7 separate regions of the Homo sapiens genome follow, and regions 1, 2, 3, 4, 5 and 7 are each linked to region 6. Evidence: fine-mapped expression QTL. A gene starts in region 6. Each other region holds a variant in brackets. All regions are shown on one strand. Distances are between the middles of the regions. Region 1 has its middle 75 kb from the start of CACNA2D3. Region 2 overlaps CACNA2D3 (calcium voltage-gated channel auxiliary subunit alpha2delta 3). Region 3 overlaps CACNA2D3 (calcium voltage-gated channel auxiliary subunit alpha2delta 3). Region 4 overlaps CACNA2D3 (calcium voltage-gated channel auxiliary subunit alpha2delta 3). Region 5 overlaps CACNA2D3 (calcium voltage-gated channel auxiliary subunit alpha2delta 3). Region 6 holds the start of CACNA2D3 (calcium voltage-gated channel auxiliary subunit alpha2delta 3). Region 7 overlaps CACNA2D3 (calcium voltage-gated channel auxiliary subunit alpha2delta 3).

What was found. PIP is the estimated chance that this variant, and not a neighbour inherited with it, causes the effect.
Region 1: its variant is fine-mapped to the expression of CACNA2D3 in spleen (GTEx, PIP above 0.99).
Region 2: its variant is fine-mapped to the expression of CACNA2D3 in whole blood (TOPMed, PIP above 0.99).
Region 3: its variant is fine-mapped to the expression of CACNA2D3 in whole blood (TOPMed, PIP above 0.99).
Region 4: its variant is fine-mapped to the expression of CACNA2D3 in whole blood (TOPMed, PIP above 0.99).
Region 5: its variant is fine-mapped to the expression of CACNA2D3 in skeletal muscle (GTEx, PIP 0.99).
Region 7: its variant is fine-mapped to the expression of CACNA2D3 in whole blood (TOPMed, PIP above 0.99).

What each region holds. Positions count from the first base shown.
Region 1 is chr3:54,045,046-54,049,112 of GRCh38, forward strand. It overlaps the pseudogene CABYRP1. Among named protein-coding and RNA genes, the nearest start is that of CACNA2D3, 75 kb to the right of the region's middle. The variant T/C (reference allele first, on the strand shown) is at 2,086.
Region 2 is chr3:54,984,652-54,988,718 of GRCh38, forward strand. It overlaps CACNA2D3 (calcium voltage-gated channel auxiliary subunit alpha2delta 3), which reads left to right. Exons shown (of 38, transcript NM_018398.3): 30 at 1-19; 31 at 3,032-3,102. Among named protein-coding and RNA genes, the nearest start is that of LRTM1, 59 kb to the left of the region's middle. The variant A/G (reference allele first, on the strand shown) is at 1,834.
Region 3 is chr3:54,976,199-54,980,265 of GRCh38, forward strand. The region is part of intron 29 of CACNA2D3 (calcium voltage-gated channel auxiliary subunit alpha2delta 3); the gene reads left to right. Among named protein-coding and RNA genes, the nearest start is that of LRTM1, 50 kb to the left of the region's middle. The variant G/A (reference allele first, on the strand shown) is at 2,285.
Region 4 is chr3:54,998,223-55,002,289 of GRCh38, forward strand. All of the region lies in intron 31 of CACNA2D3 (calcium voltage-gated channel auxiliary subunit alpha2delta 3), which reads left to right. Among named protein-coding and RNA genes, the nearest start is that of LRTM1, 72 kb to the left of the region's middle. The variant T/A (reference allele first, on the strand shown) is at 1,996.
Region 5 is chr3:54,877,663-54,881,729 of GRCh38, forward strand. CACNA2D3 (calcium voltage-gated channel auxiliary subunit alpha2delta 3) reads left to right here. Exons shown (of 38, transcript NM_018398.3): 19 at 1,356-1,427; 20 at 1,688-1,749; 21 at 3,134-3,201. It overlaps CACNA2D3-AS1 (CACNA2D3 antisense RNA 1), which reads right to left. Exons shown (of 7, transcript NR_046666.1): 4 at 1,026-1,282. Among named protein-coding and RNA genes, the nearest start is that of CACNA2D3-AS1, 22 kb to the right of the region's middle. The variant G/C (reference allele first, on the strand shown) is at 1,920.
Region 6 is chr3:54,120,629-54,124,695 of GRCh38, forward strand. It overlaps CACNA2D3 (calcium voltage-gated channel auxiliary subunit alpha2delta 3), which reads left to right and starts at 1,924. Exons shown (of 38, transcript NM_018398.3): 1 at 1,924-2,207; 2 at 2,885-2,966. The coding sequence starts at 2,086. It overlaps LOC124909381 (a long non-coding RNA gene), which reads right to left and starts at 2,814. Exons shown (of 2, transcript XR_007095914.1): 1 at 2,429-2,814. RefSeq lists a silencer at 681-730.
Region 7 is chr3:54,965,783-54,969,849 of GRCh38, forward strand. CACNA2D3 (calcium voltage-gated channel auxiliary subunit alpha2delta 3) reads left to right here. Exons shown (of 38, transcript NM_018398.3): 28 at 2,668-2,729; 29 at 4,018-4,062. It also overlaps a transcript of LRTM1 not described here. Among named protein-coding and RNA genes, the nearest start is that of LRTM1, 40 kb to the left of the region's middle. The variant A/C (reference allele first, on the strand shown) is at 2,257.

The DNA.
Region 1 (4,067 bases), 76 kb before region 6:
AGTAACCAACCCAAAGTGGAATGAATATATGTTTGTTTCTCAGTTTTCACTTTCCACACTTCAGGCACACTTTTATGGCTCAGTTTCTGAAGGCCAGCAAAAGGAAACAGAAGGAAATAAAGACACGCCTTTTAAAAAGCTGGTATTATGAAGAGGAAACCATAATGTTCCTGAAAGTGTGGATAGATACAATGCAGACCTCCTCTAAGAAATATCCAAATGAGATTTTAAAAACTTTATAATGACCTTTTGTGTAGCCTGGCAAAAGCAAATGCAAAACATGATGAATGTGTTACACTTATAATGCCCCTTGCCCAGAAGCTTAATTCAATGTGGAGGGAATTCAGACAGTATCCGTGGCCATGTTCCTTGAGGAATCACTGAATGCCTCAAGACCTGAGGCCAATTTTTGTGATATAGCATACTTTTAGACAAAGCTAAACTGATAGAATTCCCAGGACACAGAAATGCCTTCTCAACCAAACTTACTTTTCAGATGTACTTTTCTGGGGTTGAAGCAGGTGGTTTGTCTCAAAGAGGCCTCTGTTTAAAGGAATGTTTGCTCTTTGGGAAATGCTATCACTGGCAGCCTTGAATCACATTATCAAGTTGGTTGGCTGATTGAGAGCTTGGCAAAGATCTGAGGCAATGAGTCATGCAACAAAGTGAAGTTTTGATGAGTTAAGGAAGGGAAGGACCATCCCAAATTTGGGGGGCTGTCTGGGGTGGGGAAGCTTCTGCTGCGCACAGCCCTGGGGTGGCTATTGGTGTTGGAAACCAAGCTAGTCTCCTGGTCTGGTCCTGCTGAGACAGGTGAAGTCCTTGACTTTGCAAACAGCTTGCTTTCCTTAGAAAGGACCTGGAAACATGGAGTCGGACAGTTTGTTTAACACTTTAGTCATGGTATGCACTTTTGGCCTGAGGACTGAGAGTTTGTGTCTTATTCAAATGGCGAGTTGAGGTCTCCTGCTAGATGGTAGTCTACCAGGCACAGGCTTGCAAAGGACCTAGAATTTGGTCACCTCCAAGAATGGAGACACTTCCTCCTATGAAGAAGTGATTATTCTTGTTTAAGACCTGGAGAGAAGCTAGTATATCTCAATTTTCAGCTTAGCTAGCCAAGTTCTAGCAGGAACTGTGATAATCGAATCAGCAAAGTACATTCTGGGGGTAAAATGTTTACTATACAAAGGTTAATTCACCTCTGCAAAGAGATACTTCCTCACCCTCAGAGCTTCTACAGATTTCTGTAGAAGTATTTTTGGGTTTAGTGCCCTGACCATAAAAAAGTTGGGAAAATATATTATACTCTTGGGCCCAAGAGTAACTATCAGTCACTCCTGGAAAACTCTAGGTATCACTGGTATTACGGTAGGAAATAAGAAGAGAGTAGGAATTGAATGCTTGTTGAATATTGTGGTTGGGGAGAGGAGTAAATTGAGGCTCAGAGAGCTTAATTCTTTGTTCAATCTAGAAGGAGATAGAACTAGGATTTGAACTCAGGGCTATCTGGCTATAAAACCCGCCACATTTCTACTATTCCATGCTTGATAAGAGCAAGATTCCGTAAGCTGGTAGTTGGAAGGAGTTTCTGGCATCTGCAGAGAGGGAATGCCTCTTCATTCCTTTTTGAGACTTTTAGTTAAATCCATATGCTTTACATCAGTGTCAAGTGATCTGGGAAAGGCCCTTTTTTTCTTACTTTTGCATCTGTTCAATTAGAGAGTGGAACCAGATCACCTCTCAGGACACTGCTGGCCCTGACTCAATGTTTGACCAGAGTAGAGCCAGTGGGCAATTCTGGCTGTGTATTTGAAATGGATTGTGTTTGCCTTTGTATCAGAGATAAGCCAGGTGGCCACAAATCTGTTTCCTCTTCCTAGGCACATGGCTAAATTGTATTTCCCAGCCCCCTTGCATCTGTGTGGGCCTTGTGACTAAGTTCTCACCAGTGAATGCAAGGGCAGATTGCTGGGTCATTTCAAGGCCAAGGCAGCTGAGAGCAGTTATGCTTCATCCAGTTCACTTTGCCCCTTCCACAACAACCTTGGAGACTATGTGATGTGGGTAATAGCATTCCCAAGA[T/C]GGAAGAGGCTTGGTTTCCTGAGTCAGTGCTGGTGGAGAGCTGCCAAGGGAACTGCCCAACCAGAACATCTCTGCATTTGACTTTGCACGAGTGAAAAATACAACTGATTGTTGAGTCACGCTATGGATACGTGGGATTGCTTGTTATAGTAGCTAATGTTAAGCGCCCTAATACAGGCATCCAGTGTCCATTCCCTCATTCCTTTTTCTGAAAGAAACAGCATCATTTTCAGTCCATATGCTCCAGAGGATTTACAATCATCTCTCAGTATCCATGGGGGATTTGTTCCAGGACCCCCACAAATGCCAAAATCCGTGGGTGCTCAACTCCCTGATATAACCTGGTGTAGTATTTGCACATAACCTACGCACATCCTCCCATATACTTTAAATCATTTCTAGATTATTTATAATACCTAACACAATGCCTACACATCACTTCATTTGTGTGGATTCATTCTAGTACTTGTTGCGCGGCAAATTCAAGTTTTGCTTTTTGAACCTTTGTAGAATATATATATTTTTTGTACTTGTGTGAAGTTTATTGATATGTTACACTTGGTGGCAGACTCCTCCCTGAACGTTTGTTGACCCAAACAGCGTCATTTCTGGATCAGTTTTAAGTTTCTGCTTTGCGAACTTTGTGAGCATGAGTCACAGTTATCTCCCAAGCAATACTGTAACTTCCAAAGGGAGCACATTTGTCACCAGATCCTGAACTTTTTAAAGCTACCCCTTCTACTAAGAAAGCAACAGAAAGAAAAACAAGGCTTTCTGGCCTGGGGACATCTTGTCCACTTGTAGCAAGATGAGCATTCTGGGGGCTTAAGGTAAGTTTCTGGAATTTCTCATCTGCAGGAACAGCAATGGGCACTTATACTGCAGCATATCTCTTCAAAACTTCTGACTTTGAAACAACAGCATGTCCAGAAAGAGGTTTCCATTCCTTTGCTTTCTGAGCATTTGAGCCTACTAAGATAAAAGGTGGGGCACTGGTCTTACTATCTTCGATCATCTTGTAAGTTGGAGATCATCTTGTAAGTTGGTGGATGCTGCAGAAACTGTGGATCCTTAGGATTAGATAGACAGAGTTGCTTGGGGAAAAGGCCCAGGTGCAGGTGGCAGTGATGGGTGACTTTGTTGATTCTTATCAGTTAGACAATAAGGGGTCCACATGTTAGAATATCGTCGTGGTTGTCCTGCTTCACTTGCTGCCATTGCTAATATCTGAGAAGCAAACCGAGCTGTGTCAGCTGGGACATAGGCAAACTCTGGTGAAACAGCTGTTGGAGATGGTTATGAGGGTGGGGTAGTAGTCTTAGGGGTGGCTGGTTTGGAAGAAAGATCACGAACTGCTTCAGTTTGCTCAGTGCCTAGCTCAGCATAAATGGATGGAAACTGGGTGGTTTTGTCACTACATCCTGTTCCGGTTACATTGTCTTTGTAGATTTTTCCATCTGTGTAGGCACTTTAGATTCTGTTCCCTCTGACCACTTCATCCAGAGAAGTAGTCCCTTCTCTATACATAATAAGTTCTTTAAAATAAACTGCTGCAAACTGGGTCATGTTCGGTGGGTTGGTTTTGAGAACGGCTTTGCTAATTTTCCTGAGCAGAGTCTTGAGGCCATAGGGTACGGCAAGTCTGGGCTTTGAAGAAATTATTTTGGCAGGATATCTGTAACTCAGCTTCTTTCCAGCTGTGCTCTTAAGAGCTTCCTTGTTGCCCCCTTGCTGGAATATTTTTTAAACAAATATTTTAGATCTGCAGTTGATTGAATCCATCTATGCAGAACTGCGGATATGGAGGGCTGACTGTATGAGTACTATGAGCCTGGCCAATCAGAGCATTGCATGTCCCCCACCCTTAGCCACAGAGATTGGCTTAGCAATGGGCATTTGAGCCAAGCAGGGCCTTTGGGGAAGGCTCTGTTCTACTGGCTTTGAAGCTATGATGAAGAATGCAGCTGCTGGGCACCACCACA
Region 2 (4,067 bases), 860 kb after region 6:
GTCTGAAGACTACACACAGGTGAGTGAAAATTTTCTACCAGCTCCAAGTAAGGATCTCAGAATGTGCTTGGGTCAGGGGGAACAAATTATGGTGTTAAAACTTGGAGACAATGATCTTTATTTAGGAGGTAATAGCAGGAGATTATAAAACCTTATTTCCATCCCTCTAAGAATGCCACAGTCTGCTTCTCAGCAGGCCCCAAAGAGTTTTTACCTCCCACTGGGGGGTGCAGGGGGGTGACAGTGCCCAGGGTCTGTTCTCTCACTCATAAAATGTTCAATTTATAGAACTCTTAGCCAAAGAGTTGTCTGTGCCACATAAAGAACTTTTGCCTCGAGGGTGGGGTGCCTTAAATAGTTTGGGCAACTTTAAGGTTTTTTTCCTTCCGATATTTCATCTTCATATGTGTGCACACACATACACGTATGTTTCTACATAATTATTGTTTATGGCTTTCGTTCTGGTTTTTGCTTTTTAAAAATCAGTTATCTGAGTTCAAGGATTAACAGCTTGGGCTCTCAACACCGAGGGACAAGGGTCCAGAGATAGAAGAGGAATATTCTTCATTTGACTGCACCATGTGCAGTGTAGGGGTGGGAGGGAGAGAGATGAAAAGAAACCAAGCTGTGGACTTGAGCACAGAAATCTCCACTCTGCCTGGAAATCAAAATAAGAGTTAAAGTCGATGGTACTGTAATAGAAAAACGAGTTTTTCCATTCAAATTTTCTGCATTAAAACTTTTCCTGCAATTAGAAATTACATTAACGTATAAAAAAAGGTAAAATACAAACAAGTTCAACAGTGCATATAATAAAGTAACGCCATCACAGGAGGAAGGTGGTTTCTGATGTTAGCTCTCTTCCTTAACTAGTTTTGGGATCATCAGCAAGTTCCTTAACTTGTCTAGACCTCTAGATAGGCTCTGTGCAATGAGGATGGTTGACGATATAAGGTTTCTTCTAATTCAAATATTTGAGTATACTAATACATTATAATGAAGTCTCTTTTAAATCATTTAAAATTCTTTAGTAGTCAGCAGTATGATAGGTTCACTGCTTAATCAATTAGTTAATTGTCCTTAAGTGTGGCTTCTTAGGGTCTGAAATGAATGGTTTGGTAATTTATAAACAGGGGCTCCAGGAAACTTGAGGAATTGTGCTTTCATTTCCTGTCTTATTTTATGAGAATGTTGTAGGATTTTCAGTGCCCCTTGGTTGCGCTATTGAGACTCAAAATGCCCATTCCCAGTCTCCTCTGATGCTTTACATCACTAGACATGGGACAGTCCGTGGACATTAGATAGGATGAATGGGCCCATGAAACAAGGCCAGTCCCTGAGACAGCAGGAAAGTCCTTTGGCCTATAGTTATATGCCCTGTTGGCTGGGAGGAGGAACATAGGCATTCAAGAATCTATGGAGCAAGAATACACATTAGTTGCCTAGAGGGAGGAGCTCTAGTCTTCTGCTCTACTCATGTAGGGGTGAGAGAGGAATGATCCCGGGGCTCAGGAAGGGTGCAGTGGATGTCTTCCGGGGGTGAGTCCTGGAGCAGCCAACAAATGATGGAAACAGTGTCTCTGTTTCAGCCATGAGCAGCCATGGCCACTACAGATTCTCTGCTCTATGTCTCCATGGAATAAGCCTGCGATAGACCCAGTGAGTTTGCCAGCCTGCTCAGCCTGGGCTTGTTTGATGTTGTCTGACTTCCTGTGCCCCAATTAGGATAATTCTTCATCTAACAACCAGTTTCATTGAAACTGGCACATTACACACACGAAATACAAATGTCCTTCTTGCTCCTAGCAGTAGTACACGCCCACAGAGTTTGCA[A/G]AAGTTTCCAAGTTTCCCTGTAGTGAAAAAGGAAGTGGTCAATATTCAGTCAGAGAAATGTTGTTTCCTTCTTCCTCCTTTTCTCCCCCTTTACATTTTGCCAAAGTTTATATATGTGTCTTGCTACCTGAAAACTCCCAGGAGTGTGGTTGAGGTCACTCAGTTAGTTGCAATGGAATTGGGGTTTAGTTAATACAAAGCCTACGGAATATACATAATTTGGATTCTTATTGCAGTGCCCTCCACCCACCCACCCACCCACTCACAAGCTACAAATCTTCAGAGCACCCAGAGTAGAGATGGGGCTTCTCTTCTGGTCAACACTGGCTCATTTCAGCATGTTGGCAGAAGGCCCTTACTGCAGGCTCTGTTCCATGCACTGCGTACGCCCTCCCCCATGGGACACCTTGCATGATAGTAGCTCCAGAAATTCAGAGGGCATGCATGAGGATGTTAATTCTTCATTCCACCAAAGTTTGCAAATCTTGGCCAGCACCAAGAAGTAGACTTACAAAAACATCAGCCTGGTGGTGGGGAATGACTGCAAAGCTTCGAATGACCTTAAGACAGCCTCAGGTGTGGGGTAGGCCATTAGAAGTCTCATTGGCCATGCTGTCTCCTCAAGGGGCTGGATAGTCTTACTCTTGGTCAACATGTCAACTGCCTATGACAAAATGAAAGTGATCCTCAGAAAGTGATTCTGAGAAAGGGTGGATTCTCAACTGCAGGAACTTTATTGGGCTGATGAAGTGGACTGCTGTATTTCCCTAAACAGGTCGTCCAGGAATTATAAACAATTCTTTTTATTAGTGCTTAGGAAGCCCTCTCATAGTCTGTTTCTGCCTATATGAAGTAGTGTTTTAATCACACGGGATTATGTGCATATTACTACCTACTCCATCCAAGGGTAGTGGGGTATGTGTGTGTGCACATGTGTGTGCATGCGTGTTTTAATTTCAGCATTCAGCATGGGTTACGCAGCCCCCTCCCACGTACTGTGGAAGCATTCACATCTGCTCTCTAGTTTGCTGTGTAATCCCATGAGTTCTCATGACTGTTAAAACCTTTTCCACTTTCCTGAAAACCTGCCTTTTGCTCCTGTCAGTTCCAGGACACAGACTGTGTCCCTTTTCATTTCTTCTCTCCTGTTTGGGCACATTATTTATCTACACCTCCTCATATGTCTTCTTCCCCATAGACTGGAGACTTTTTTGGTGAGATCGAGGGAGCTGTGATGAACAAATTGCTAACAATGGGCTCCTTTAAAAGGTAAGGGTTTTATGGTCCACTGCATTCCCCCCAAAAGTTTTCCTAAATAAAATAAAACAAGCCAAGGTCAAATAAAGCAAGCCCAGACTTGACCCTGTGGCTGGTTTTTACTTGTGTTCATGCTCCAAAAGATCTCTCTGAAATTCGATGCCTCTTGCACGAGTGTTAGAGTGTTAGAGTCTTAGAAACTCAGTTCACAATGAGTTTCCTGTTCACCCAGCAGAGCATTTATTGGAGGCCAGTATTGAAGTAGGAGGCTGCACTGTGATGTGATTATGTCAGTCTGAAGCAAGTCACTGCGAAGAAGTAGGAAAGGTTTTCACCTGGCCGGAAGGGTGGAGTGTATTTTGTCTCCTATTGATTAACCTGGGAAGCTCCCTAGAAATCTGGAACTTGGGGATGAAAGGTGGTATTTAGAGACTTCTTGATGTTGTTTTAGAAAATCAAGTGAAAATTCTCAAAATCCGCTCTTGATGGAGGTAAGTTTAAGTCTGCTTCTGGAAGAAAACCTAGATGGTGCCAAATTCCACAGGTGGCAGATACTGACTACTCATCCAGGTGTAAGAACTCTCGCTGATCCTGAATAAAGCTTGTGTAGAGCAGCTTCCTTATGGCCCCATGTCCCTCATGGGCAGGCCAGCCATGCTCTTGGGAATACCTAAACTTCTGGGAAAAGCCATCATCCCATGAGATCGGGTGTTAGAATGCCTCCCTGGGGGTCCATGCTGTCTCCCTTCCCTTGGCCTCCCAGGAAGAATGTTAGCCTTTCAAGTGGTGCTTTAATGGGCATATTTGATGCTGTTAAATATATAATGGCAGGAAATGCAAGGATGGCCCTCCAGCTTCCCTGAGAGATCCATTGCACATCGGTGGCCAGTGGGTAGGCAGGCCCCTGGTTTATTACTCTTCTGCGGCTGAATGGCTAGGAAGTGTTAGCTCAGGAAATCAGACTTTTAAGCTAGTCA
Region 3 (4,067 bases), 860 kb after region 6:
GTCAGCCAGTAGAAAGAGTGTGGGCTTTGGAGTCCCATAGCAATGGACTCAAGTCTCACTTGTGTGTGTGTGACCTTGGAGAAGACAACATCTCACAACAGTCCCCAGAGTGTGATGTTCCCCTTCCTGTTGTGGGGTGGGGGGAGGGGGGAGAGATAGCATTGGGAGATATACCTAATGCTAGATGACGAGTTAGTGGGTTGCAGTGCACCAGCATGTCACATGTATACATATGTAACTAACCTGCACATTGTGCACATGTACCCTAAAACTTAAAGTATAATAATAATAATTAAAAAAAGACAACATCTCAGTTTTCTCTTCTTTCCAAGAGAAAAATTCCCTGCTTGATGCTGTGAAAAGTGAGGTTTTCATGAGTCGATGTCCTCCTGTAGCTGCCATCCTCCTTATTCTTCTTCTTACATTCTTATTGTTACTATTATTAGTGACAGTCATGTTTTATGAAAAACTTCTTTGTGTGATAGTTTTCATCTGGTATTCTCCCAAGGAGGCCACTCCCCTATTTTTGCAGCTTGGTTTTCCAAGTTCTGAGTTAAAGCAGTGTTTGCCCCTGCTCCAGAGCTCTCAGCTCTGTTCCTTCCACACCAGAAGTGGGAGTGGGAGGGAGCAGGGCAGACGCCTGAGAAGTGAGTCTTCTGATCTCCCTTCTACTGGTGCTGGCTGTTATAAGGAGCATTATAAGGAGGGCCTCGTTCTAAGAAGAAAGGTCAGAAAAAGAACCAAATGTTTACAGCAAATAATAAAAAGTTATTTTGAATATTTTTCTCTAAATAAAGTGGAAAGTATGAAACTGTGTTTATTTTTTAAATAAATTTAGGTTATATTTGCAATTGTACTCTAATTTTCCAAAGAAACAAATGGGGTAAGGGGCCAGGAGTTTAGTGTTTCTGATAAGATGATAAAATAGCACAATATGAAATCCTTCACTTTATATTTTGATTTTTCTCAGAATGACCACAAAAAGGGTAAAATATAGTAAAGAGTTTGATCAATTTTCCTAGGGTACTTTTCTTAGTCCTTTGCTGTTGAAATTATTCTCTTTGGAAGTACAGCTCATGTTTTATTTGTAGCAGGTATTTTTTCATCTTTCTGCCTCTGACAGATTCTAATGTGCCAATGGCTTCCTGTGCGATTGGAGCTGTTTAACGTTACTTTCATGGACTTCATGAAATCTTGCCTCTTTGTCAAGATTTTCAATTGACTTTATAATCTATTTGCCTTGTACCTGTATTGCATTGCTCAATATTTACAGTATTAGGCAAACAGAAAGATATTGACCAAAGATGTAGGTCTAATAGCAAGAGTACTAATTAGTTAGAGATGTTGGAGTAGGGACTAAGTTTTAACTAGGAGTAGAGGTTATGATGATTTGTGGCCTTATATGCAGCTGTGGGGATTTGAATATTGACAGTATCTGAATATGGAGGCCACTTCTGTACTCAACATGTATTTACTGACTCAACAGAGGTTAGCCGCCCCTTGCTTCATTGTCTGTATCTGCAGAATGAGCATCATGATGTTACCTGAAAGGGATCCCAATCCAGACCCCAAGAGAGGGTTCTTGGACCTCATACAAGAAAGAATTCATGGAAAGTCCACAGAGTAAACTGAAAACAAGTTTATTAAGAACATAAAGCAATAAAAGAATGGGTGTTCCATAGGCAGAGCAGCCTCGAGGGCTGCTGGTTACCCATTTTTATCGTTATTTCTTGATGATATGCTAAACAATGGGTGGATTATTCATGCCTCTCCTTTTTAGACCGTATAGGGTATCTTCCTGACGTTGCCATGGCATTTGTAAACTGTCATGGCACTGGTGGGAGTGTAGCAGTGAGGATGATCAGAGTTTACTCTCATCACCATCTTGGTTTTGGTGGTTTTAGCCAGCTTCTTTACTGCATCCTGTTTATCAGCAAGATCTTTATGACCTGTATCTTGTGCTGACCTCCTAACTCATCCTGTGACACAGAATGCCTTAACCGTCTGGGAATGCAGCCCAATAGGTCTCAGCCTCATTTTACCCAGCCCCTATTCAAGATGGAGTTGCTCTGGTTCAAACACCTCTAACATTTCCCCCGTCCCTTTTATAAGAAAACCCTTAATCCTAAGGGTTGCAGAGGGATAAAGATGCATCTTCTGTAACTTCTTCAAGCTGATAGGGGCAATGCCATTCCTGCCTAACTATTGGGTCTCTTGCATTCAGGGTAGATAGAGAGGAGCTCAGTCAGAAAGCATTGGTATGGCAAGGGCCGTTCATGACTCC[G/A]AGTTCTGACAAAAGATGATATCTAGAAGATTAAAAAGTGCTCAGTGTAAGAAAACATTTAGTAAGCTTGTCCAGCATTTCTACACAAAGAGTACAATAGCAACGTATTCCAAAACAGTAAAACAAAATAAGTAAAATTATCCCAAGTAAACTAAATAAGGCGTTCCATGAACTGGGCAACTATTGGAACCAAGCTGATATGAGGTTGCTAGCTGATTCCAATACATGCCCAGAATTAGAATATTGATCCAGATTTTTACATTACCCATCCCTGTTGTTTCTTCTGAGCAGCAGTCAAGAGATCACTGGTTGGTTCACAGGAATAAACAGGGTTGGCCTAAATTACAGAAAAAAACCTTAAAATCAACTGATGAGACTAGAACTTAATAACAGGTTATACCACAGTTCTTGAAACATAATTGTTCTCTAGTTTCCCATTTTTGCTGGAGACAAATCATAGTAAGACTAATTTGCTTTATTATACTTGGCCTGATTATTTGTATACAGTGCAGCAAGAATAATTATTTTTCACATAGGCTTTTAAATTTGTCTTTGATGAAATTTTGTTCCATAGAGGGAATCTCAGATAAGACTTTTTTTTAAAGCCAAGCCTAGCCATGGGTTTGTACCCCAGATATCTATGAGTTGAGTAAATTCTTCTCCTCTTGAGGTCCCAAAATAACTTGGGGCTCCTGGGCCTTTCAGAAGGTGACATTCTTTACTTACCACAGGTCAGGAACCCTGTACAGGGACTGTGTAGACAAGGTATGAGGCTAGTTTTTTTCAAGGGGCTCTTCTTGGCTCTCTAAGTCAAGTTTGATTCCTTAAAGGTAAACACACCATTCCAGTCAAAGCCTTGGTAAAATAACCAGTTTCTCCAGTTGTATCCTATTACAATAGAAAAGAGATTCTTACTGCATTTATGCAAATAACTATATTGCCATAAGTTAAGATACTCTCAAATAGTTTCCAAATTCTGGAGGAACCAGGTAGAGAGAAACAAATATTCTCTAAATTTTTTCGCAGAAGTATAGTTTACTCAATTGTTAAAAGCTGTAAATAGCTCAAAAGAAAAATTTTCTTGGCCCTGGAAAACAAAAAGGATCAGCAATGTTTTAAGCAAAAAAGTAAAAGAAAAATATTACTTCAGTTTTTTATTAGTTCAGTTCATGCAGTTGACTCCTATTCTGCTTGAACAGAACTCCTGTTCTGTCATGAACATTTCAGCTCTCTGTGAGAGTCCTGAAACTTTCTTCCTCTATTCTAATGTCACAATCTCCAACATTATCAGAAATCTGCATTCAATAGCACTGTCAGAGTTCTATAGTTGATTATAAACCATCTCTTGAAGAAGATTAAAACAAGACAACAGTTGTCTGTGGATGATAAAAAGTCTTAGGACAGCCACTATTAAAGCCACAATTGATAAAGAAATTTGGTTACTTCTGTGGCATCCAAATCTTACATAACAATTATAACTATTAATAACATACAGTAAGCCATGTTAGAATTATAGGACTTCTTATAATTTTGGAACACATACCAATAGCACAACTATATAAATATATCCCAAAGAAAGCCAAACACTGTTTCACATTTGATAATGCTTCCTGTTATGATTTTTATACCAAATAAGCCAAGTTTTACCTTTGCATTAGTGTACTATTAATGTTAAATCCAATTCTTAATAAAACCTTATAGACAAATGTATTCAGTCTTAATCAGTTTGACCACGAGGTAAGATTTTCATAAACCTTGTATAACCCTTTACATTTTTTTGTGA
Region 4 (4,067 bases), 880 kb after region 6:
CCTCCTGGGTTCAAGCAATTCTCATGTCTTAGCCTGCCGAGTAGCTGGGACTACAGGTGCGTGCCACCACGCCAGGCTAATTTGTATTTTTAATAGAGATGGGGTTTTGCCATGTTGGCCAGGCTAGTCTTGAACTCCTGACCTCAAGTGATCGGCCCACCTTGGCTTCTCAAAGTTGTGGGATTACAGGCGTGAGCCACCACACCTGGCCTTTAATCAATTAATTCTTATGGTTACTGTTCTTCTTACCTGGGTAAGATGCTGATGGGATTAATATCTCAGTATCTACAATTTTGTTTCTCTTTATATTATCAGCACCTGTTGATGAAAGGTGTTGATTTGGTGCCAACAGACCCTCTGCTTAATCCACCAAATGAGTGACGCTTTCTTGTTGCTCCCCATTCAGTGTTCAGCAGTGAACCCTGGGAGGTCCTGATAGCCTGTGTGGTTTATTCTTGGCTAATGATGGGTGCTCATTAGCTAAAGTTGGTTTTTGTTTTGTTTTGTTTTGTTTTGTTTTGTTTTGTTTTGTTTTGTTTTTTGAGATGGAGTCTTGCTCTGTCGCCCAGGCTGGAGTGCAGTGGCGTGGTCTCAGCTCACTGAAAGCTCCGTCTCCAGGGTTCACGCCATTCTCCTGCCTAAGCCTCCCGAGTAGCTGGGACTACAGGCACCTGCTACCATGCCCGGCTAATTTTTTATATTTTTAGTAGAGACGGGGTTTCACTATTTTAGCCAGGATGGTCTCGATCTCCTGACCTCATGATCCGCCCGCCTTGGCCTCCCAAAGTGCTGGGATTACAGGCGTGAGCCACCGCGCCCGGCCAGCTAAAGTTGTTTAACTAATTTCCAGTTGGAGGGCTCAAAGGCAGTAGGACCAGGGTTTTGTAAATTCACTGCCTCTGCTGTGTTAGAGACACTGCACCAATCTTAAAGAACAGTGCCATCTCTGCAAGAAGTTGCTGTGGGATGAGATGATGACTGATACGAGCAGGAGAGAAGGGAGAGCACATTTTGAATCTTCTATTAGCACTCCTATCAACAGGTTGAGCCTTCTACTTTCCTGGCTTTCTGAGATGTAAGAATGAGTAAGGGCTTCCCATGGCGACGGTCTCTTTGTTAAGAATTTCCTATGTTCCTCCCCCATGCCTTTTCAATTGCAAGTTGAAAGCTGCCCCCAGAGGACACATTTTATAGCGCAACAAAGAAGACATATTTTTACATGCTACCTTAGTGAGTCATTTTGCTTCTCAGACTTTTCAATTCGGAATTGCTTAATTATGTCCCATGATAGGTCTCTATGTCTAATGCCTCCCTTGTCCTGTTTTTAGGGCTGTATTTGCAGACATTAAGCTGTTTCAAGATTGTTTTTAGGCCAGTTGTTTAGCCAAAGTGAGCTAATTTGATGAATCATTACAGGAAAATTACCTGGCCTCACGGTACATAGTAGGTGTTTAATAAATGTTGAGCCCCACAGTTGCTAACCACCCCTAAATTAGCCAGCCTAAATTAGCTGAGCTTATGCTGTTAAAATGCAGCCTGCTAATTCTTAGAGCAAATATTTTTCTTGGTCAGGATTTTTGTCTAGTTGGAAAAGAAAGAACAGTATCAGCAAAATGGCTTTAAACATGTCTTAATGTCATGAGTTTGTCATCCAAGGCTCTACCCAGCATGGGTGCAGGGCTACCAGGCTTTGTTTGTATTGCTTTGAGTTGTTTCTTCAGAGGCCGTATCTGCCTTCTGTCAAAGTTTAAAGTTTCAAAGTTCCACCATCCATGTGGGCACACAGCGATGCTAATGATAAGGTTGGTTGGAGTAGCCTGGTGGTGATGTCATGGGGATTAAGGCATGTTATCTGTAATAAGAATACACCCCCACTGCTGAGTGCAGCTGCACACAGCACCAGTCTTGGGCTGGGCATGATTCTCAGAGCTGATTTTAGAGTCAAATGAAAGCAGGCAATTATCATGTTCTTTAACTGTAATCAGCCGAACAGGA[T/A]ACAGGTAGCCGCAAAATGGAGTTATTTAAAACAGTAACAAAGTCACTTCAAAAAGGGTAATAATCTGGAAGTCTCCTGCTGCAATATCTAGTTAAAGCTGTCCAAGTGTGGAGAAGACAGGGAAGGCTTATTTTGTAACCTCGTCAATGGCAATAGTATCAGGAAAGCCTCCTTTTGAAATAGAGGAGTGGGGAACAAGGGGAGGGAGAGTGTTAGGACAAATATCTAATTCACATGGGGCTTAAAACCTAGATGATGGGTTGATAGGTACAGGAAACCACCATGGCACATGTATTCCTATGGAACAAACCTGCTTGTTCTGCGCATGTATACTATAACTTAAAGTAATATTTAAAAATAAATAAATAAATAAAAGGAACCTTGGCCTGGGGGCTGCCCCAGAGCAATTTAGTTTAGCCCCAACATGTAAACTAGAGCCTTTGAAAATGATCCAAGGAGAATCCTGAGTTTCCTGCCATCTGTCAGAGTGGTTACCATGGTAAGAAGTATTCACAAGTGCAGCCAGCTGTTCCAGTCTGGCCTGGTGACTCATCAGCCCTTCAGCTTGGGTTGAAAGTTGATTCTGGACATTGGTTATCTTGGGCAGCATTTTTTGTGACATTCCAATAAGACCCTGGGCTGGGGAACAGGTCTGAAGCCTAAGCATTTCTTAGAATCTGTCAGAGCCTGCTTCTGAGCAGAGAGCAAAAGGTGGTGGATTCAGCTTGGCCCCCTACTAAATCTGGCTCTATCACCAATGATCTATGTGAACTTGGGCATATTTATTTAGGCTGGCTAAGACTTGGTTTTCCCCTCTGTAAAATGGAGATGATTATAATCTATCTTATAGGGATGTGTTTAGAGGAGTACCTCGCTTATGGTTGCTAAACAGAGTTCAGTACACATCAGCTGTTGTTATCATTGCCTTCCGCTAAGAAGCCCATGGACAGAAGTTCCTGCATCATCGCTTGGTAACACCAGCACAGCTTCTGATGGTGTCCTTGTATTGCAGTAGCAAGCATGGATTTTCCTCTGCATTGTCTATGCCAATGAGCTAAGAAAACCGGGAGCCTTGTTCATCTTTCAGCCAGCTGGGTAATGCCTGTGTCAATTCCCATTCCTTTAAACACCAGCCCATTAATTGGTAGTGGCAATGAAAAGATACCAATACTTATAACAGCAGCTATAGCTCTGCCTCCTGTTGGAATACTTCCTCTCTAGCAGGCACTGTGCTGAATGCAACACATAGATAACCTTCTTTAACCCTATGACCACCCTATAAGGTAGTCATTATTCTCACCATTTCACAGATAGGAAACTGAGGCACCAAGAGGGTTAAAAAGACATTGTTGTAAGTGGATGAGTTAGGATTTGAGCTCAGGTATTACTGACTTCAAAGATGGCATTTTCACTATGTCACATTGCCTTCTCTTGAGCCTTTGGGAACAGTGCAGCTTTAAGAGCCCGAACTCTAACAAAGAATAAAATCAGTCTTCTGTTGTAAGGATCTTAACAACGTTGGCACACTTAGAGCATATTTCAGTGTACTTCTACACAGCTGGTTATTTAGATCTCAGAACATCTCTGTAATTGTTTAATAAGTCAGGAAACGAAGCCTTTGAAGAGTACCAGCAAGCTGCTCAAGAATGCACCCTGGAGGCCGAGCGCGGTGGCTCACGCCCATAATCCCAGCATTTTGGGAGGCTGAGGCAGGTGGATCACAAGGTCAGGAGTTCGAGACCAGCCTGGCCAACATAGTGAAACCCCATCTCTACTAAAAATACAAAATTAGTTGGGTGTAGTGGCATGTGCCTGTAGTCCCAACTACTCGGGAGGCTGAAGTGGGAGAATCGCTTGAACCTGGGAGGCAGAGGTTGCAGTGAGCCAAGACCATGCCATTGCACTCCAGCTTGGGTGACAGAGAGTGAGACTCCATATCAAAAAAAAAAAAAAAAAGAATGTACCCTGTATATACGACAGGACCAACTTTTGAAACCATGGCCATCCTGCATCCATGGCTATGAGACTCCAAGCACATGCACATTCCTCTCAACCCCATGCTGCCTCTCAC
Region 5 (4,067 bases), 760 kb after region 6:
ACTAAAGGAGGCATCAGTGACCCTGGCCTTGGACACTCCCAGACCCCCATGTTGATTGTTCTGTGCTACTGGGAGTTGGGGGTGGGGTGGCATGGAGACACAGCGAGGCTTACCTAATCTCTAGTTTGCCTGGGGAATGTGAGAGGAGAAGGTCCCAAATGGCTTTAGGCAGGCACCAGAAAGAGGAAAAATGAAAACCATGTTAAAGATAAATCGAGCCGTTCTTAAAAGTTAGAAAGTAGACTTAATTAGGACCAGCTCTCCCTGTCCAAAACCACAAAAGTTAAAATGGGAAAATATTTCCAGAAATGCCTATTATGTGTTGTTAAAAAAATATCTAGAGTAAAATATATGTTTTATTTTATACATGCCTCCAGCTAAAAATTATGCCTTTACTCACTCACACAGAAGATGAGAATGCAAACCCAAATCTAGACAGCCTCGAATCAAATTTAGGTTGCTTGCTAGTGTTGCAGTTTTCTATCGGCCAGATCTTACTCAAGCTCCTCAAAGGAGAAAAGAGGGGAAAAGATGAAAAAGACAAGAGAGGGGTGGGGAGAGAGCCTTTCCTGACAGGCTGTGGCATGTCAGCGTTTGCTCCTATTCCATTAACTGGCCTTCTCTGTCGTCTTGCCTTGGTGCCCATGACGGCACATCTTTCATCACTGCGTCTGCTGTCCTCCTCTGAACTCATGGAAGGGCCACATGTAATTAGATGAGGTCAGCTGGGGGTGGGGGAGGAGAGCCAGGCTCGCTGCTCCTAAACAGGACCTCCAAAAAATCAGATACAGGGTCGCTCCTGTTCACTGCCTCATCAGCAAGGTCATTAATTGGCCCAGATTTCTCAGAGAGCATTTAAAGATGATTCATCTTAGGAAAGGCTAACCCCTGTCTTCCAAATGCTTGGCCTTTTTTTTTTTTTTTCTTCTTCTTTTTAACTACTGTGTAGGAAAACGTCTTTAACTTGATTACGTTTTGAAAAGTGATTTCTCCATGACAAATCAGTACCCTTTTTGAAAACGTACCTTGTCCCCAGAGACGTTCTTGCTCGGCATTTCAGCGGGTCTCCAGGAGTTCACGCTCTGACCCCCGGGATTCATCAGTATCGCCAAGGCTCTTTTGTTATTGTCCTGAAGTTTACACGAGCTCCCCAAATTAAAGATGAAGGTCATTTATTTATTGTTGTTAGCCTGTCTCCCATTGTACATGAGCAGTTGGGTGTTTTATTCTTCAGAAGCTCTGTTTTCGAGGTGTAAGTTCAATATGGAGGCTCCACTGCACGCTGAGGATGCAAGATGTCCAGATTACATGATAACCCAGGGAAGAACTAACACACTTTTCTTTTATCATTTTAGTTGAGAAATGCTATGGTGAATCGAAAGACGGGGAAGTTTTCCATGGAGGTGAAGAAGACAGTGGACAAAGGGGTACATTTTTCTCAAACATTTTTGCTGCTTAATTTAAAACAAACCACTGTGAAAAATTAGCTTTGAAAGCTATATCTGGAATAAATATCTTTCGCTGAGATCATTTTTCTCTTGTCTTTACTTATCTCAAACAAGATTCATGTAGTACTGTTAACCTGATCATAGTGTGTCCATTTATTTTTATTTATTTCTGAAGACGTCACTTAGCAGACTAACCATGTTTTCTTTTCTCTACGACTTTTTTTTTTTTTTCAATCTAGAAACGGGTTTTGGTGATGACAAATGACTACTATTATACAGACATCAAGGGTACTCCTTTCAGGTAGAGCTGACCATAATACATGGACATTCCATCAGACCCATCAGTTGTGTTTGTACAAAACCTGCTGACACTCTCAGAGCTCATCATCTGAAGATAACCAAACACCCTGCCAAAAGGCTGGAAAGAGTGAGGAAGGGGCTTTTCCCAGGCTGCTTTTGTTTTCCAGAAGG[G/C]GGGGAGATGGTTCAGGCTCACCTAGGAGAACTCACTCAATCTGCCATGGCTTTGCATCTCATTGTCAAGCAAATATGCTTTGGGGGTTCCCGCTAAGGGTGAAGACAAGTGCAGAGGGTTACCAGGGTCCTTAACTATTGAACTTGCTGCTTTGTGAGTTCCATTTCACCTTTTATTTCCATGACCAAAAAAACAATCCTTCAAACCTGGAGGTGGCATATCCATTCCTACATGTTGTGCCTCTGTTTCCATTTCTCTGAACTGTCCTTGTGTGCTTGTCTACTTTTGAATCCTGTTGTTTCTCTTTGTAACAGTCCTGAAAAATGGCTTTGCCTCATTGGCTGCTTTCAGATGTGTATGTAGCATTCTAAAGTTTCCCACTACTATTAACTTAGTGTTGTAATTCATTTTGTAAAAAATTATTTCAGTAAGCCTGCTTCATATTCCTGAACTGGCGTCTCAGAGCTAAGGAGAGAAGGAGTTTACTGACTGTAGAATAATCTGAAAAATAAATTCTAGCATTGTTGTCCTAAACTGCCAAGGATCATGGGTGGATTCCATGTGGAACCAGGAGCAAATAAGGACCACATGAGCTGCTAAGTGGGTTTGCCAAATAGTCTCTCTAACGTAAGGGACTATGTTTTAAAAACATAGTCTCTTGCTTTTGATAAAAACGGAATGGATCTTAAATCAAGCCAGTGAGTGTGAAAAACCTATTAGACTAGGGAGAGGATTGGGCAAAGAAGCCTGCAACACAGTAATGTGGTTACACTCATGTAGTAGTGGAAGTTTTTGTTTTTGCCCTTGAGCAGGGGTCAATTTCCCGAGTCCCAAAGTCTAGGGGCTGGAGAGACCCATCTCTGGCTGAATGCAGGACAAGGGTGTATAAAGAGCAGGGCTCATGGTCCTTGGGAGGGCATCTGAGAGAAGGGCTTGCTGGAAGGGCGAGCAGTTTGCCACAACTCTGAAAACACAAAGAGTAGCCAATTGCTGCTGGCATTTCTGATCAGAAGTTACTTTGAAGCAGCTGATTGAACCTAAGAAAAACCAACACCAGTGATAATCAGTGGGGTTTTGAAAGTAAACAGTTGGAAAAATTGTTGACAGATCATAAAATGGAAATGTGAAAAATGGAAAATTAAAAAATGTTAGCCCACAAGTCTATTCGAGTCGATGCCAGGGATTTCAAGATTTGCTTTGTCTCTCTGCACAGTTTAGGTGTGGCGCTTTCCAGAGGTCATGGGAAATATTTCTTCCGAGGGAATGTAACCATCGAAGAAGGTAAGATACTGCCTGGCTCGTCTTATCCTTTGGTGTGGGAGGAAAGCTCGGGAGCTAGCTACTGAGTTAGCTGAAGAACTTGTTCATCTGTCCGCACCTGTGACCAGTCCCTTGGACATTCCACTCAAACGAATGCCTACTTGATAATTCTTAATACCTTTCTTCTTCCCTGGTGTGCCTAGATTTCAGAATGACAGGAGTTCCGATTCATGGTTGTGATTTAATTTACTTATATTCTACTTTCATCCACAAAGCTGTTGACTATGAGTAACTCACAGTCAACAGCATTATGGATGAAAGCAGAGTATCAGTAAATAGGAATCATCCCTCAAGTATATTCTTCTCATACATAAAAATCAGTACTTGGGAGAAATACAAATTTATGAAATAACTCATGCCCAGGGGAAACCATGAAAACAGAGATATGAGAGCCTTAGTCTCTCCTACACAGTTGAGCCACGTATTTCACTTGTGTTTCATGGCAGCCCTGGCCCAAAGGGAAATGTGACCATTTAAATGATTTACATAGGTCAGAGGGAGTAAGTAGCACCTTGAAGTTCCCAGACCCTCTTATCTTCATAAAGCACAGAGGCACAGTAAACTCTCAGTAAACAGGAGCAGTTGTTATAGCTCTTTAAATTTTAAAATTGCTGTCACATGTGCTATCCTTTTCATCTGCCAGCTCCCTAGTAGTTCAGAGAGGTTACCTGTCCCAGCATTAGGAGCTCACAGGGGTGGTGGACATTGTTTCTGAAGGGCACCACTCCCTGAGTGGCCTTGAGTGACTCACTTGCAGGTCATTAGGTTTTGCATGTCCACAGAGGAGGAGTGGGCCCAGAACAGTAGTCTTTCTGGATGTCTTTAGG
Region 6 (4,067 bases):
GATCCCGCGTTCTGATAGGAAAACACATTTTCTTCTAACCCCCAATTTGAGGGTCAACTCCTGGGACCCCTTGCCTCGGGGGTCAGGCCGCGCTTGGCTCGGTTTGGAAAGGGCTGGCACGCTTCCTCAGGCGGAGGGTATGCACAGAAGCGGAGAATTCATTATAACCGGTTAGTCATCCGTAGAGGCTGTAGACACTGCCCGCGGGCGGGGCGCACCTGGCGCTCCTGGAGAGGGGCCTGTTCCTTGCGTTGCCCCCCAAGGTGGGAGCGCGACCTGCCAGAGCCCAGGGGAGCTCGGGTCTGCCCGCACTCGGGAAAAGCACTAAGAGCCTCTCGGTAGCAGTCCTTCTCCCTCGCTGCCAACTCTGAGATCAAGCCCAACATCTGCAGGGGTAACTTTTTCCAGGGACTACTGGAAAGGAGAGCCGGCCTGGCTCCTAGCCGGACACCACCTGGCGGAAGCTGGAGCCCGCCCTTACTTCCCTGCAACCTGAGGATGCTGAGGCCAAGGGCGGGTGACGGGGCAGAAAGCAAAGCCCTGGTTGCAGAAAGGCATGCAAATATGAACCCAGGTGTCTGGTGCGCCGGGAGCCCCGGCGACGTTAGGAGCGCACTCCTTGCTGGGGTCACCGGAGTTGCGCTTGGCCGGGCAAGGATGACTCAGCCTCACTCCGGTCGGTCTTTACCGCCAGCCTGCGCGAGGGCTCCACAAAGTTCCCAATCACACCCCATACCTCGCACGGGGGAGAGGGGTTCTGCAAGCTGGGTCCCGGGGTGGGGGCAGCGGCGAGAGAGGCGGGGAGAAGCCTGGTTCCCAGAACGCGCAGGGGCTTCTCCGGCTTCCTTTCTCCTCGCCCCTGAGGGCGGCGAGAAGGCGCCTCCTCCGGCGCTCACTGCCTCCTGCCCAGTGCGGTGGGCGCCGGAGTGGGGAGCAGGCAATCCCCCAGGCTCGGAGAAATCTTTTATCCCGAAATCCAGGGTGTCCCCCGGTCAGGATCGACTCGGCGCCGCGTTGGCTTCCTCGCTCAACCCTGACATCCCGGTCCCCACCAGTCACCGCAGCCGGGCGGACTCCGAAGGCAGCGGCCGCTGGGGAGCCCCGGGGCCTGGGTCGGGCGCGCAGGGGGCCGCTGCGCTGCGGCCGGATGCCGGGAGCCCCGCGCTGGTGCGCCCAAGCCGTGGTGGCAGCACCGCCCTCCGTGCTTTCCCCTGTCGGGCGCCGCGGCCGGAGGAGCAGCTGCGGGCGGTCACGCAGCGCTGCCCTAGCCAGAGCCCCGAGCTCCCACCCAGTCCCATCCCCAGCCCGATCCGCCCCGCGTGCGATCCCGCCTGCCGCCGCGAGCCTGTGCTCCTTTCTGAGATTTCTGCTTCTTCCCCAGCTCCCTCCCCGCAGGAGAATCGCGCGGCGGGGGCGGAGGGCGCGCCCCCTTTAGGTTCCGCGGCCCCCGACCCCGCCCGGCCCAGGGGCGGAGCGGGCATGCTACGCCCTCTCCTAGCAGCCGCCCGCAAAGTGCGGAGCGCCGCGCCCTGCCCTCGGCTTCCCTCCCGCGCCCCCAACCCCCACCCTGGCTAGGGTCGCCCGGCCCGGGGCCAGCCCCAGAGTCGCGCCCGCGGTGGCGGACTGCGGAGTTGTAAAGAACTCAGCGGCCGCAGTAGCCCGGGTGGGGCAGGGCGCGCTCCGCCGCGGCCAAGGACACTGGAGTTTCCGAGTCCCCGCCCGCGCGGCGCCTCCTGCCCCGCCGCCCTCCCGCCGCGGCCCGCCGGACTCCCCGGGGCCGCCGAGGCGGGGCCGGGCGGCTGCTGCTGCTAGAGGCGCGTCTCGCTGCCTCCTCCCCCGCCCGCCTCCCTCCCCACCTCTCCTCCCTCCCTCCCCACCTCTCCTCCCTCCCTCTCCTCTCCGCCCTCCCCGCCCCCCCCACCCGCTCCTTTTTCTGCTCCCCAAGTGAGCCGGGCGCGCGAGAGGCAGGCGGGGCGGCGCGGAGCGGAGCAGGCAGCCCCGCGCGCTCGCCCACCGCCCGCTCCGCGCAGCTCCCCGCGGCCGCTCTCGTCGCCGCCGCAGCGGGCGCGTCGGAGGGAGCCCAGCATGGCCGGGCCGGGCTCGCCGCGCCGCGCGTCCCGGGGGGCCTCGGCGCTTCTCGCTGCCGCGCTTCTCTACGCCGCGCTGGGGGACGTGGTGCGCTCGGAGCAGCAGATACCGCTCTCCGTGTAAGTGCCGGCTCCTGCGCCGCCCGGGGAGGGGACCTTGCCGCCTGCGACCCACTGTGCCCAAGTTTGGGCGCCTGCAGGTGCGGCTGGGCAGGACCCGCCGCGGGCGTCGGCCTCGCCGCTCGCACCTGCCTTTCGGGACCCGCGTCGGGCGGCGAGGCCGGGGTGGGATGCTCTGGCCCCTGCCCGCAGGTTGCCGAGTGAGATCTGGAGAGGCTCACCTCAAGTGACGGCACCAACTTTGGAGCCTGGTTACCGAATCCAACTTCCATGGGCCGCTGAATTTCCCCCCTCTTTGCTCTACTGCCGCCCCACTTCTTTTTTTGGGGGGGGGATGGGTGGATTTCTTCTGACTGCTATTTGCCAGGTGATGCCCAGTTTGGGGGGTCGAGTCCTCGGGCAGTGGTTCGAATGAAACTCAGTGGTCTTTTTAGAGAGCCTGGGAGACTTTGCGCATTCTTAACTCCGCGACCCCCCTCGGGCCCCCTCCCGCGCTGCGCTTTGCAGTTTTGGTGCTGGCAGTTTCTACCAAGCCGCTTTTTCTATCTTTTCTTCTTTTAAAACATGTTACATCGCACTGCTCCTTCAGCCATAGTCCCATGTGTGCGTGTGCGTGTGCGTGCGTGTTGACTGTGACACGGGTGTTACATATCTTCCTGTGCCCCTTCTCCCTGTAGGGTGAAGCTCTGGGCCTCGGCTTTTGGTGGGGAGATAAAATCCATTGCTGCTAAGTACTCCGGTTCCCAGCTTCTGCAAAAGGTAAGGTTTCTGTGGTGGCAGGAAGCGATGATTTTTCCGGCACAGAAAATGGAGGCAGATTTAGTTTTCCAAACAAACGTGAGCCCCGAGCAGCATCAGTTATCGGAGGACTCTCTGATCCCCGGGTTTCTTGGCATTGTACTATGCAGTGACTTCTTCCTACCAACCGGTTATTTTTAGATGACACTTGATTCTAACCACAAAGAAAAGCAGGATACTCACTCGCACTGTCCTGGCTGGGGCTCGGAAACTGAGTGTTTTTGCATGGCTCTCGTCTCCGTGTCGGTATTGCTGTTTCAGTGCCAGAGCAGATGCTCCTCGGGCCAAAAAATGCTAACTTCATCCAAGGGGCAGACTCAGTGCCTATTTTGTGATGCCTTTCACCTTGCGTTGGAGGCGTGGGGTTCAGTGTATCAGAGAAAGACGCTGCACTATTGTTTGTCATCCCTGCAGTTGTACAATCCCATTATTCCCCAATCATCTAGACCCAGGGCTAGGATGCATTACATCATTGCAGATAAGGAGAATGAATGTGGTTATCTTTCCACTCAGCTGCACTGCCGGGTAATAACCTATGAGAGTAGTCCACAAACTTAAGAAATGGGTCTGCATCCATGTAATTCTGGAGAGTAATGAGAATGGAGAATTGATTATTAGGTTCTTATCACAAGCTGCATCAATTTTAATTCAAATAGGCAGCATTTTAAGCATAAGCTTAAAATTACATTGTGAGATAAATGGTCCTTCGTTCTCCCCTTCAGGAAATAAAGAAAAAAAAATGGGTCTGGGAGGAGAGATTAGAGGGGTTCAAAGAATTTCAAGTTAGCAGATCAACAGGATTAATCAAAGTATTCTCTTGATGATAGAAAATAAAATTGGCCTTTAGGGAATAATTCTCTGAAAATGGGTACAAACAGCTTAAATTGTTAAGTTAACTTTTAAACATTTTAAAATATGATTTTTGGGCCAATGTACCATATGTGTTATGCATGCTGCCTGGTAACCAAGTACGTATTTTATTTATGGCATTCCCCTTCAGAGAGTAGCATTTTTGGGGACAGTATATGAAACAGTTTGCCACATGAAATCCAAATATCGTAA
Region 7 (4,067 bases), 850 kb after region 6:
AACTAGCAGAACAATTGCAGCCAGGACTATCCAGGAGCCTTTGGGCAACAACCTCATGGTGCAGGCAGGGGTGTGAGTGAGGAGAGAGGGAAGCAGTTCTAGTTCAGGGCATCAGGACCAGGACGAGGATGCAGCCTGCTGGAGGGAGATCAGAGAGAAGCAGCCTGCATGATTAATGGGATGGAGGGACTGACTCATGAGGAAAGATGAAAGCGCCCCAAGGAGCTGGGGTAGAGGACCGACAGGGGCAGATGAGAACAGACTGCAAGTATGTGAGATGGATAAACACCCAGCGGGGAGCAGCTGGCTTCATCAGGGAGGTGAAGATGAGGGCTCCATCAGAGAACGGGGGTGGGGGTCTCAGAAAGGGCATCAGGAGACTCATGGAAGCTCAAGAGATGACAGGTGGGCCCAGGACAGCTCTGGGCTGTTGGAGGGAGAAGCACCATGGAAAGGCTACCCTGGAGTGACTCTTTCAGGGAGTCAGACCCTGTTTTGCACCCTGCACCCTGGCCTGTCAGGCATTTGGAAGATGAGATTTATTTGAAATGCAGTCAACTACCATCAGACTCAAAATCAGCTTCTTTCAGGCATTCTCTGAAATGTTCTCCAATGCTGGGAAGAACAGCTTTTGTGTTGTGTAGTCTGGCCACGTGGCCCACATCACAGTAGGTCCCCAACAGCTGATTTACTAAAGCCATCCCCCACCTTGGCTGTGCGTGAGAATCATCTGGGACACTTTTAAAACATACCCAAGCCAGCCACATGGCTCACATCTGTAATCCCAGCACTTTGGGAGGTTGAGGCAGGCAGGTCACTTGAGCCCACGAGTTAGAGATCAGCCTGGCTAACATGGTGAAACTTCACCTCTACAGAAAATACAAAAATTAGCCAGGTGTGGTGGTGCACACCTGTAATCCCAGCTACTCGGGAGGCTGAGGCATGAGAATCACTTGAACCCGGGAAGCAGAGGTTGCAGTGAGCTGAGATCACACCACTGCACTCCAGCCTGGACAGCAGAGTGAGATTCTGTCTCAAACAAACAAACAAACAAACGATTCGCATAGGTGTTACTCTTCTATATTTCTCTCTAACTGCTGACTATAATATCACTTGAAAGTTTTTTTTAAAAAGCAAGCATTTACCTATGGGTCGTCTGTGTACTCAGCATCTTGCTGGAGGCAGGGGTCCAGCAGGGAGCAAGAACAGGTCCTCATTCTTGGGAAGGCTGTGGTCCAGAGAACGAAGGACACTTAAGGCAGAGCAGAATGAGCCTGGGCACCGACATGGTGCATTTCAGAGGCTTTTCACGTTCTGCATGTTGCAGCCGTGCACTGCTCTAGTCTTTATCCTAGAGTCGGAAATTCTAAGTGCAAACACAGATGGCAAATCTCTCCCAATGTACACACCCAGTTAACCTTTACTCTCAGGGCTGGCTTCAACAATTTCTTTAGGAAGTAGAAATGCCCTTGATAGTTATCAGGGTAACAACAGCCCAAGACCTTTATGAATCTCCAAGTTCCTGAAGCCAGCACAACAATGATTACCCAAATGGGAGGTCCAGTATAGTGGCACGCAAAATTTTTAGAGTATTTAAGTGATTTTTTTTCTTACAATTGTGTATTTCTTTTGATGGGTGTTCCAGTTTTATTTAGGTTGAATTACTGTAGGTCTTTAAGCAAAAGAAAGAAATGTGGAAGGACAATAAGAGTATTGGTGGTATGCAAATATGGTAAAAATGGGGAGGTTGTGTGCAACAGACTACAGTTTGCAAAACTGCACTGGGGTAAATGACGTGCTCCAGGGAATTCAGTATTCCCTGTAGTCTCATTCTTCTGAACGCCTCTCAAGTTTTCCCACCATCTGAGGAGCATTTTGCCCTTACCATTTTACTTCCTGAGATGGTTTCAGGTCTTTCAAGTGGTTTGGGCTTCATGGAGAAAAATAAGGTGAACTTCCTCATGTTATAGTTTTGAGGTTCCACTAAATTTCACTTCCCAAAGTTTCAAGTCACATTCTTAACCTCTTCTCTTTTTGGCTGTTTCTGTCACTAGAACTAGCATTCACAGTTGCTTTAGGAAGCTTTTCACAGACAAAGAAAAAATTACATAATTTTACCAGAGTTCCATGGGAGAGAAGAACCTTGAGATGTGGACTCTAGGAGGCCAGTTAAACTAAGACACATTATAGTAAAGTGACTCACTTCTGAATTCTAGCCTCATGACAAGTGCTTTTCAAATGTTACGTCTCAAAAAC[A/C]CATGCAGAGTACACATTTTAGACATGCAAGTTCAAACAGTAATAGCTGACAGGAACTGAAGCAATAGTGATCTTTTGAATTTTTTTTTTTCTTTCCTCTTCTCAGCTTGTGTTGGGGTGGGGGTAGGGGCAGTGGTGCAAGCATATGAATTTTAGAAATGCCGAAGTAACATGTCTCCAAAGAGCGATCTGCACTGTGCTGTTTGTTTTGTATCGAGAGTTCTGTGAGTGCAGGTAAACTTGAGAATTCTTTACCTGAAAGATAAAATGTTTTAGTTGTATGCTTCACTGTACATTTTATTTTATATGCTTATATCAGCTTCTTGCCATGACGGATAATTTTCAACGATAATCTTAAATAATTGTGTAAAGGGATCACTAATGCCTTGTTTTATTTATAATTTGTCCCAGCTGTAGGCATTCAGATGAAACTTGAATTTTTCCAAAGGAAGTTCTGGACTGCCAGCAGACAGGTAAGTTATAATCAGCATCTTGAAGCATTAGCGACACTGTTATTATACAGGTGTTCCCATTTGGGTACCTGGAGCCTGAAAGTGCCAGATTTCCGATGAATGTTTGTAAAATCAACTGCCGGCTGCTCAGATTACCTTTCATTTCACTGCAAAATAAAGGGCTGTCAGCATGTTAGACACCACATGCTGAGCAAAGCAGGGAATTTGCTCCTAGGAACAGTTTTAATTGTGGGATCAAGATAGTGACCTTCCAAAGGAGTTTTTCTTTTAAGTATTGGGGCCTTTTGTGAGATTTTCATTCTGACTTTCTCCTAATCCTGTGGTCGTGCCTGGTTACTTACTTGTGAATCTCATTATCAAAATCTAGAAACCCTTTACGTAACTAGTTTCTCCAAAACATGTATCTGACTTCTTTGTTCACAGGGTCTACCTTGGAGAATCTGGGAACATTGTTTTCTTTTCGCTATGCTCTCTGTACTAAGTCATCTCAGTGGTATTTGTTGAGTAATTTGGTAGAAAGGGCCACTGATAAGTTGCTTCCATCTGACCAAGAATAAATGTTAGAATGGCTTATCATCCTTTAAATTAAGATACTTTAGGAAGCTATAAACTAAGGAGATGGACAGGGGTTTTTTAAAGTCACTGAGAATTAATGAATTTTAAATTAATTACATAATTGTATTTTTAGTTACCAAAAGATTTGAGATCTTAAAAAGATATCATTACTGTTTAATGACAACATAAAGTAGACTTTTTTTTTTTTTTTTTGAGATAGTCTTGCTCTGTCTCCCAGGCTGGAGTGCAGTGGTGCGATCTCGACTCACTGCACCCTCCACCTCCCTGGTTCAAGTGATTCTCCTGCCTCAGCCTCCTGAGTAGCTGGGATTACAGGTGCCTGCCACCACACTAGGGTAATTTTTGTATGTTTTAGTAGAGATGGGATTTCGCCATGTGGCCAGGCTGGTCTCGAACTCCTGACCTCAAGTGATCTGCCCTCCTTGGCCTCCCAAAGTGCAGGGATTACAGGTGTGAGCCACTGTGCCTGCCCCACCCCGCTCAGTTGTTTCATAGATCTTTTATTTTACATTACTACTTGGAATTGATACTGATTCCAGAGATAGTAGACAAGACACATCATGGAGCATTCCTTTTCAATGAAATTGGGTATTTGAATTCTAGCCCATGACTTGGATAGCTTGTCCTTAAGTAGCTCAGTGGCAGCCACAGCAGGCACTGGGATGCCCAAGTAACATAGTAACACATTTCCCTCCACTTTTTGCCTTCACAGTGTGCTTCCCTGGATGGCAAATGCTCCATCAGCTGTGATGATGAGGTAAG